2 linked regions of the Homo sapiens genome follow. The protein of the gene in region 1 purifies or fractionates together with the protein of each later gene. This does not show direct contact. Each region holds a gene or a part of one and is shown in the gene's direction. Other genes may lie near its edges.

Region 1 (3,500 bases):
GGAGGAGGCAGCCAGACTGTTCTACCAGATTGCCTCGGCAGTGGCCCACTGCCATGACGGGGGGCTGGTGCTGCGGGACCTCAAGCTGCGGAAATTCATCTTTAAGGACGAAGAGAGGTAGGTCTCATCCTGTCCAGACCTGGGTACTGTGATGGACTGCTCCTAACAACAGCTTCCTAGAAAAGTCTTGAATGGACGTTTTTTTGCCGTCTGTGGTCCAGATGAGGGGAAGGAATCTTAGGAGGGCAAAAGGAAGTGAATATTGCAATTTTCAAGTGTTTGGGAAAACAAATAGCTACTATTCTAAAGGTGTCATCTGGTGCTCAAAGGACAGGTACCAGGATATTCTGTGACCCAATGAATATGTATGATTAGGTGTCTTGAATTCCGAAGGTGGCTGCAAACCTCTTTGACATTTTCAATGCCAGTAAAGGCAGGGCCTTGAAAATTCTACCCGCAGAACACTCAGCAGCCAGAATCAGTCATTTATAATTCATTCATCCATGCACTCATTCAGTAGCTCTTACCTAAGCTTATATTAGGTATTAGTCACAATTCTCAGTACTATTAATATCTAGATGAATTAGATAGCCAACGGACCTATAAAGGAAATGCTACCAGCTCAGAATAGAGGTCCGTGCTGGGTGGGATGAGAACTGGGGTGGTGGGGACATGTCAGTTCTCCCTAGGACTTGGAGAGTCAAGGAAGGTTTTACAGGAGGGGTGATTTTGGAGCCAAGACTCGAAAGATGACTGGATTTCAGGAAATGTGGGAAAGACCGCATTCCAGGTGAGGAAACTGCTGATGCAAATGCATGGCAGTGCAGAGGTCTTGGTTATTGGAGGAGACAGCTGGACAGGATGCAGGCAACTGGCTTATGCCGTTAACTCATTACCTTCTATTTAGCAGACTCTGCTGGGGCCCTGCTTTCTCTCCCAGCCGATTTTGATTACAAGAACTCCTTCAAGCCCTTTTTGTTCTTTTTAAGAATATGAGTTTAGAGGGACAGAGGCAACAAATCTGTATTCATTGCTCACCGTAGTTCCTGAATGAGGCCCCACATAATGTGGAGACCAGCTCATATCTTGATCTTTGCTTGTGAATGCCTTTACCTTTATTAACAAACTGAGAAGGGGCAGCTGTTGGAAGATTTAGAGTGTGGAACCACATTTACCTTTTCTCTTCCGCTCAGATGCCTCTGCCCCTGGAGCCTGGAGATGTTTCCCCTGGTTTTGCCTTCGATACCCTCTGTGATCTTGGATTGGTCCTTCGTCTGTTTCCACCCTCCCCCTACCAGCCTCATATTTCTCCTTCTGTTACCTTCTGTATGCTGTATTGGCTCTAAGGTCTTTTCAATTAATAATAAATTGGTGTATGTGCTTCTTTGAATATTCTCATTTAGAAGATGAATATATGTTGACCCCCAACGATACTGACAAAGGTATTCTCTCTACCCTTGTATGTTCCACCTTTCTTGGAGATTTAATAACTGCACCTACAAAAATAAGAGGTCATATTTGTTTACCTCTTACCATAAGGTTAAAGTTTAATTCTCTCTCCCTATTGAAGTGAATGTCATCATGTCCATTGTATAGACGAGAGCTCCAAAGTGCAACGTGGTGAAGTCCCAAAGTTACGGACAGGAAAGAGCAGAAGTAAGGCCACATTCACTAGTAAGTCAGCTCTCAAGAAATTCATTTGTCTGCCAGAGGGCATGGGGACAGCAAATGCCCTCTCTCGCAGGGATCTGTGTTTTTAAGTGTCGTCTTTGATTGTGTTTCCATAGGGAGGAACTCTCGGGCACCAACGAGTAGAAGGAATGGCCTATTCAGGGATAGGACCCCCATAGTGAATACATGTTTGTGCAAATGAGTAGAGCAGGGTGGAGGTCCCCAAGTCATAGAACATGGGAACAAAAGTGGACCCGGAGGTTGCATAGTCTGTGTGGCACTCTCTTGGTTTGCTGCCAGGAGGCAGAACTCCAGAGGTGAGAGCACGCCCCAGTGCACACAGCTAGCTAGGAGCCAGTGAAGCACAGCCAGGCCTCACCTGGGCTGTGGAGGGCTTTTACTCCCACCCAGCCTTTGCTTCTCCTTTATGAGTGTGTCATCACACGCCAAAATCCTTGATGTCCCAGGATCCAGGGAAGAAGCTTCCAACCTCAGGAGTGTGTGCCTCTGACATTCCGTCTGGAAGTTACGTTTGACTTTCGCGAAAGAGCATGACCCTGTCCAGAGATAACCAGAAAGGAGTATCCAGTGTGAATGTGAAACCGAAACAATTGCCTGGAGTAAACATGTCAAAGCAAAATCCTTTTTCATTTTCAAGAGCATTTTCCAAGGTAAAAAGAGAATGTAAAGGACTGTAGGGAGCTGGCCTATATAGTCCCTACAGCATGGTGGCATGTGTGATAGCCCCTTTGGCCATGCAGCCGTGTTGCCCCAGGGGCCAGCCTTGAGGCTGATGCCCTGTAGGACCTTGGAGAAAATGAGAACTCCTCCATCTGATCAGTGAGGTTACTTGGCCTCATGGCAGGGTCACCTAGCTGGCTTAATGTTACACAGCCAGTCTGAGGGTGCAGCCAGCCTGGAAATCCTGTCATTCCATCGAGAGCTCTTCTTCCAGCCCAAGTCACATGGAGGTCCCAGTGGGCTTGCTTTTCAGGAACATGACAAGTGTCTGTCTGGGCAGCTCTGAGAAGGTCACCTCTGTTTTCAAGGACATTTTGAATGTTCTCAGCAGTAGCTGATTGATAAAGAGCTTTTTTGTTTTTCTAAAATCCAACTATCAACTTTTTGTGAAAGGGGAATCATGCCTAGTCACCTTTTTCTTCTTGTTGTTTTGTATTTTAACCTCTCGATTCCAGAATGTGAAACTTCTGCTTTTTGTTCCACAATGTATTTCTCCTTCTCTGCCTCCTGGCAGCATTGAGTTTCATGGCAGATTCTCTTTTATTTGGCCTGCATGGTGGCCTACATGGAGCACATTGCCAGCACTTCCTGAGGGAAGAGTGTGAGGCCAAGTGTCAGGGGCCCAGGACCTCATTGGCTCCATGCTTGCTGCTGGGAACTCTCATCTTCCACCCTAATTGCATCACTTTTAGTGGAGCTAAAGCTTCCTTCTCCCTCAACAACATCGAAAGTGTAAGGAAGCAATGGGTTAAATTTTAAAGGCTTTTGGAAAGCTAAACCACAGAGTTAATGTCTGTTTTCTCACCTTTTGGGCATTGGTCCCACGGTGAAAAAGCAAAGAAGCAAATTTGGGAAGTGCTGCTTTATTCATCTTCTGACCATCACACACCTCTTTTGCGCATCAGTCTTCTTCTCAGTGATGTGCTTCTTGAACTCTGGTGATCTGGAAAGCAATCGAAAGTGCAGGCTTTACGTGTGAAATTGGCTGAGGCCCACCTGGTGCAGAAGAAGACCTGCCTATGGGCTGACTCCTTGTGCCTAAAGTTTCGATTGTGTGCCATCTGGGACTCTGCATCCATGGCCATCCA
Region 2 (3,500 bases), on another chromosome or scaffold:
AAGATGGGGAGAGGGGTTCTCAGGGCTGTAGTCATCAAACTCCGTGGGCATAAGAAGCCCCCAGGCCTCGTGTAACAAGCATCCCATTCCTGGGGCCCACTGTCCAGATACGGGCCAGGAATGGGCACCTCGGGTCATTAGGCTGTAGGTATTTGGAGGGCAGGTCTCACTTTGGGAACAGTTGCTCACCTCAGGGCTGGGGTTCAGCTGGATGGGGCTGGCTCTCCTCTCTGTCTCTGTGGTAGTCTCTTGGGGCTCTGTTTGGCATTAGCATCTGCACAAAGCCCAGTTTTCTCCTCTCTGAATTTAACTGGCCACTTGGTGGTGGTGTGTTGGCTCCCCGCCTCTGTACCCTGTATATGCTGCCTTAAAGGATGTCCACCTTTAGCATCTAATTAATCCCAAGTAAAGGAGCTGTGGTTCTTTGTCACTTGGAGCCTTGGATGCTCCCCTGGTAGCAGGAGGAGTTGGAGGCAGCAGCGGCAGCTGTGTGATGCATCCCAAGTCAAAGGCCTGCAGGCTGGGTTAGCATAAGGAAACTCGCTGACTTACTCAGTGAGAAGGGGTCTTTCTGTCTTGTCTAGAGCTGAGAATGAAGCGGAGAGCATCAGACAGAGGAGCTGGGGAAACGTCGGCCAGGGCCAAGGCTCTAGGAAGTGGGATTTCTGGAAATAATGCAAAGAGAGCTGGACCATTCATCCTTGGTAAGCCTCTGACCTTTGGGAAAAATGGGTGGGCTGGGAGGCAGGGGCAGGGCACATTGGCTCGCATGATCTGACCTACAGACATCAGAGTGAGGTGGCCCACCCACAGCAGTGTGTGGTCCTGCCCTGCCCCAGGCTTGGTCCCTAGCTTCACTACTTGAAACAGAATATGTTTATATCAGTGGAAGACCCAAGCCTTGGGTCACTCTGTACCAGGGGCTGTCAGTGTTTTAGCCATACCAGCCTTAGATCAGCCTTAGCCAATAGCTAGGCTCCGACTCTCCCCCCAGAGAATCCTATGTGTGCCCCTAGAATGGTGACGTGCTCACAGGAAGCACACCCATTAGAAGTCATTAGCTGCATTAGAACCCAAGCTCTGGCCAGGTGCAATAGCTCACTTATGTAATCCCAGCACTTTTCGAGGCTGAGGTGAGAGGATCACTTGTGGCTAAGAGTTCAAGACTTTGCAAGCTTGGGCAACATAGTGAGATCCCATCTCTACTAGAAAAATATAAAAATTAATTGGGTGTGGTGTCACATGCCTGTAGTCCTAGCTACTTGGGAGGCTGAGGCAGGAGGATTACTTGAGCCCAGGAGTTTGAGGTTACAGTGAGTCGTGATCACGCCACTGCATTCCAGCCTAGGCAACGGTGCGAGACTCTCTCTCTAAAAAAATAAAATAAAATAAAATAAAATAAAATAAAATAAAATGAAAACCCAAGATCTATCATCCAAGGCACTGCTTTATGCCATTCTTGGATGGCATAATTTCACAAAGCATTTTGTATAGCCCCCCAAATTTATTTAAATTGGCACAGAAATCCTGGCACAGGTGTTGGCAGTTGGCCAGAGGAGCAGCAAAGCATTTCTGCATGATGCATAAGGACCAGCAGTCCAAATTGCTTATAGTCAGGGTTGCAGCCAGAGACTGGGCGTGAGTTTTACTTTGGGACAGCATTTTGGACTTACAGGCTCAGGATAGTTCCAGCTCCAGTCATTCAGTACATACTTAATGGTGTGTACCTACTACGTGCCAGGCCTGTGCTGTTTGCCAGGCCTGTGCTGTTTGCCAGGCATGCAGCAGTGAATAAGACAAGTTCCTGCCCTCACAGAGAAACAGAGTAAACAACTCACCAGTCATCACCGGTGGTGCAAGTGCCTTGAAGGAAGTTCCACGATGACGTGAGATGAGAAGGGCCCGTAGGTAGGGCAGGCAAGAAAGGCCTGTTTATGAGGAAACACCATATGAGCTGACACCTGAGGAGGAGAAGCAGCAACTGTGGGGAAAGCTGGGGAAGAACATTGCAGACAGAAGAAACAGCACTGCAGAGGCCCAGCAGCAGGAAAGGGCTTACCATGTTGGGAACTAGGAGCCCAACATTAGGAGCTGGAGTGTGGCATGGGACAGGGAATGGAACATCCTGTTAGAAAGGTGGGCGGGAACTGAATCATGCAAGGCCTTGGGGGCCAGACAAAGGAGTTTGGGTGGTATGTTAAGAGCAGTGGGTCTGTGAACATTGCACTGGTAAAAAGGAAAACCAAGAGCAGCGGAGCTTCGTTAAGAGTTTTTCACGCAGCAGTGGCACTGTGACATCAGATTTCCACTCTCAAAGCTTGGGCAAGGTGCTGTCACGGGACAGTGAGCACTGTGCATCTCCAGAAGTACAGAAAGTCCCCAAAGCTGGCACTTGGACAGGGGCCAGATGGCTGTATCAGAATCTCCAGGGAACCTGTTGCGGCTCTAGTTTCCTGGATCCTCACCCTGAAGTTGCTCTTCAGGGGATCCAGGATCTCTTGGGTTTTGTTGATTTTTTTGAGGCAGGGCTTTGTTCTGTTGCCCTGGCTGGAGTGCAGTGGCACAAACACAGTTCACTGCAGCCTCAGCCTCCTGGGCTCAAACGATCCTCCCACCTCAGCCTTCCAAGTAGCTGGGTCTACAGGTATGCTCCACCATGCTCAGCCAATATTTTATTTTTTGTAGAGAAGAAGTCTCACTGTGTTGCCCAGGCTGGTCTCAAACTCCTGGGCTCAAGCAGTCCTCCCACCTCAGCCTCCCAAAGTGTTGGGATTACAGGTGTGAGCCACCACACCCAGCCTGGATCTCTTGTTTTTAATAGATGCTCACTAGACATTCCAGCGTGCACCCAGGGTTGAAAACCTCTCTTTGGGAAATGTGTTTGCAAAAGCTGGATGTGCTCCAGGCAGAGCACACATACCCCTCTATTTTTGGAGGGGAGACCTTGAAAACTCTCCACCAGGAGACCTTGGAGGGTCAGTCCAGTACACATGAGCTATGGTGCCCTCCTGAATAGAAGGTCTAGTAAAAGACCACGTGGTGACCTGGCGTCGTGACAGCCAGGGCTTCTGAAAAGTAGACCAGCAGCTCTCTGTGCCGTAGGTCCCCGTCTGGGCAACTCACCGGTGCCAAGCATAGTGCAGTGTTTGGCGAGGAAAGATGGCACGGATGACTTCTATCAGCTGAAGGTAAGTGAGACATGGGGGTGAGGGTGCCTCAGGAACAGGGCCTGTCATGCCAACCCACTCCTCCCTCCTCCACCTTCACACCTGCGTCATTGTGAACAAGAGTAGCGCCATTTCTTCCCGAGAAGCAATCAAGTTCACAGTCTCCCTCAGAACAACTTCTGATTTAAAGAGTTTTGTCTGTGCATAAATTACATCACCATCATATTAAGAAAAACGATTTCACTTGGTGTGTTTGTGTGTGCATTGTGCACAAATGTCATGTGGTAAAAAGCCCCCTGCTTCCCCCGTTCTGGTTGTTCTGCTGTGTAAAGT

The links. Proteins that work in one complex are often made in the same cells at the same time.
Region 2: the proteins of TRIB2 (region 1) and STK40 purify together in Homo sapiens (affinity purification with mass spectrometry; 3 studies listed by BioGRID and IntAct, with this or other methods). This does not show direct contact.

Annotation. Positions count from the first base shown.
Region 1 is NC_000002.12:12,723,436-12,726,935, forward strand, and holds part of TRIB2 (tribbles homolog 2), read left to right. Parts: coding exon 1-117; intron 118-3,500.
Region 2 is NC_000001.11:36,358,425-36,361,924, reverse strand, and holds part of STK40 (serine/threonine-protein kinase 40), read left to right. Parts: intron 1-584; 5' UTR 585-592; coding exon 593-704; intron 705-3,087; coding exon of another isoform or gene 3,088-3,102; coding exon 3,103-3,188; intron 3,189-3,500. UniProt on the Homo sapiens protein: May be a negative regulator of NF-kappa-B and p53-mediated gene transcription.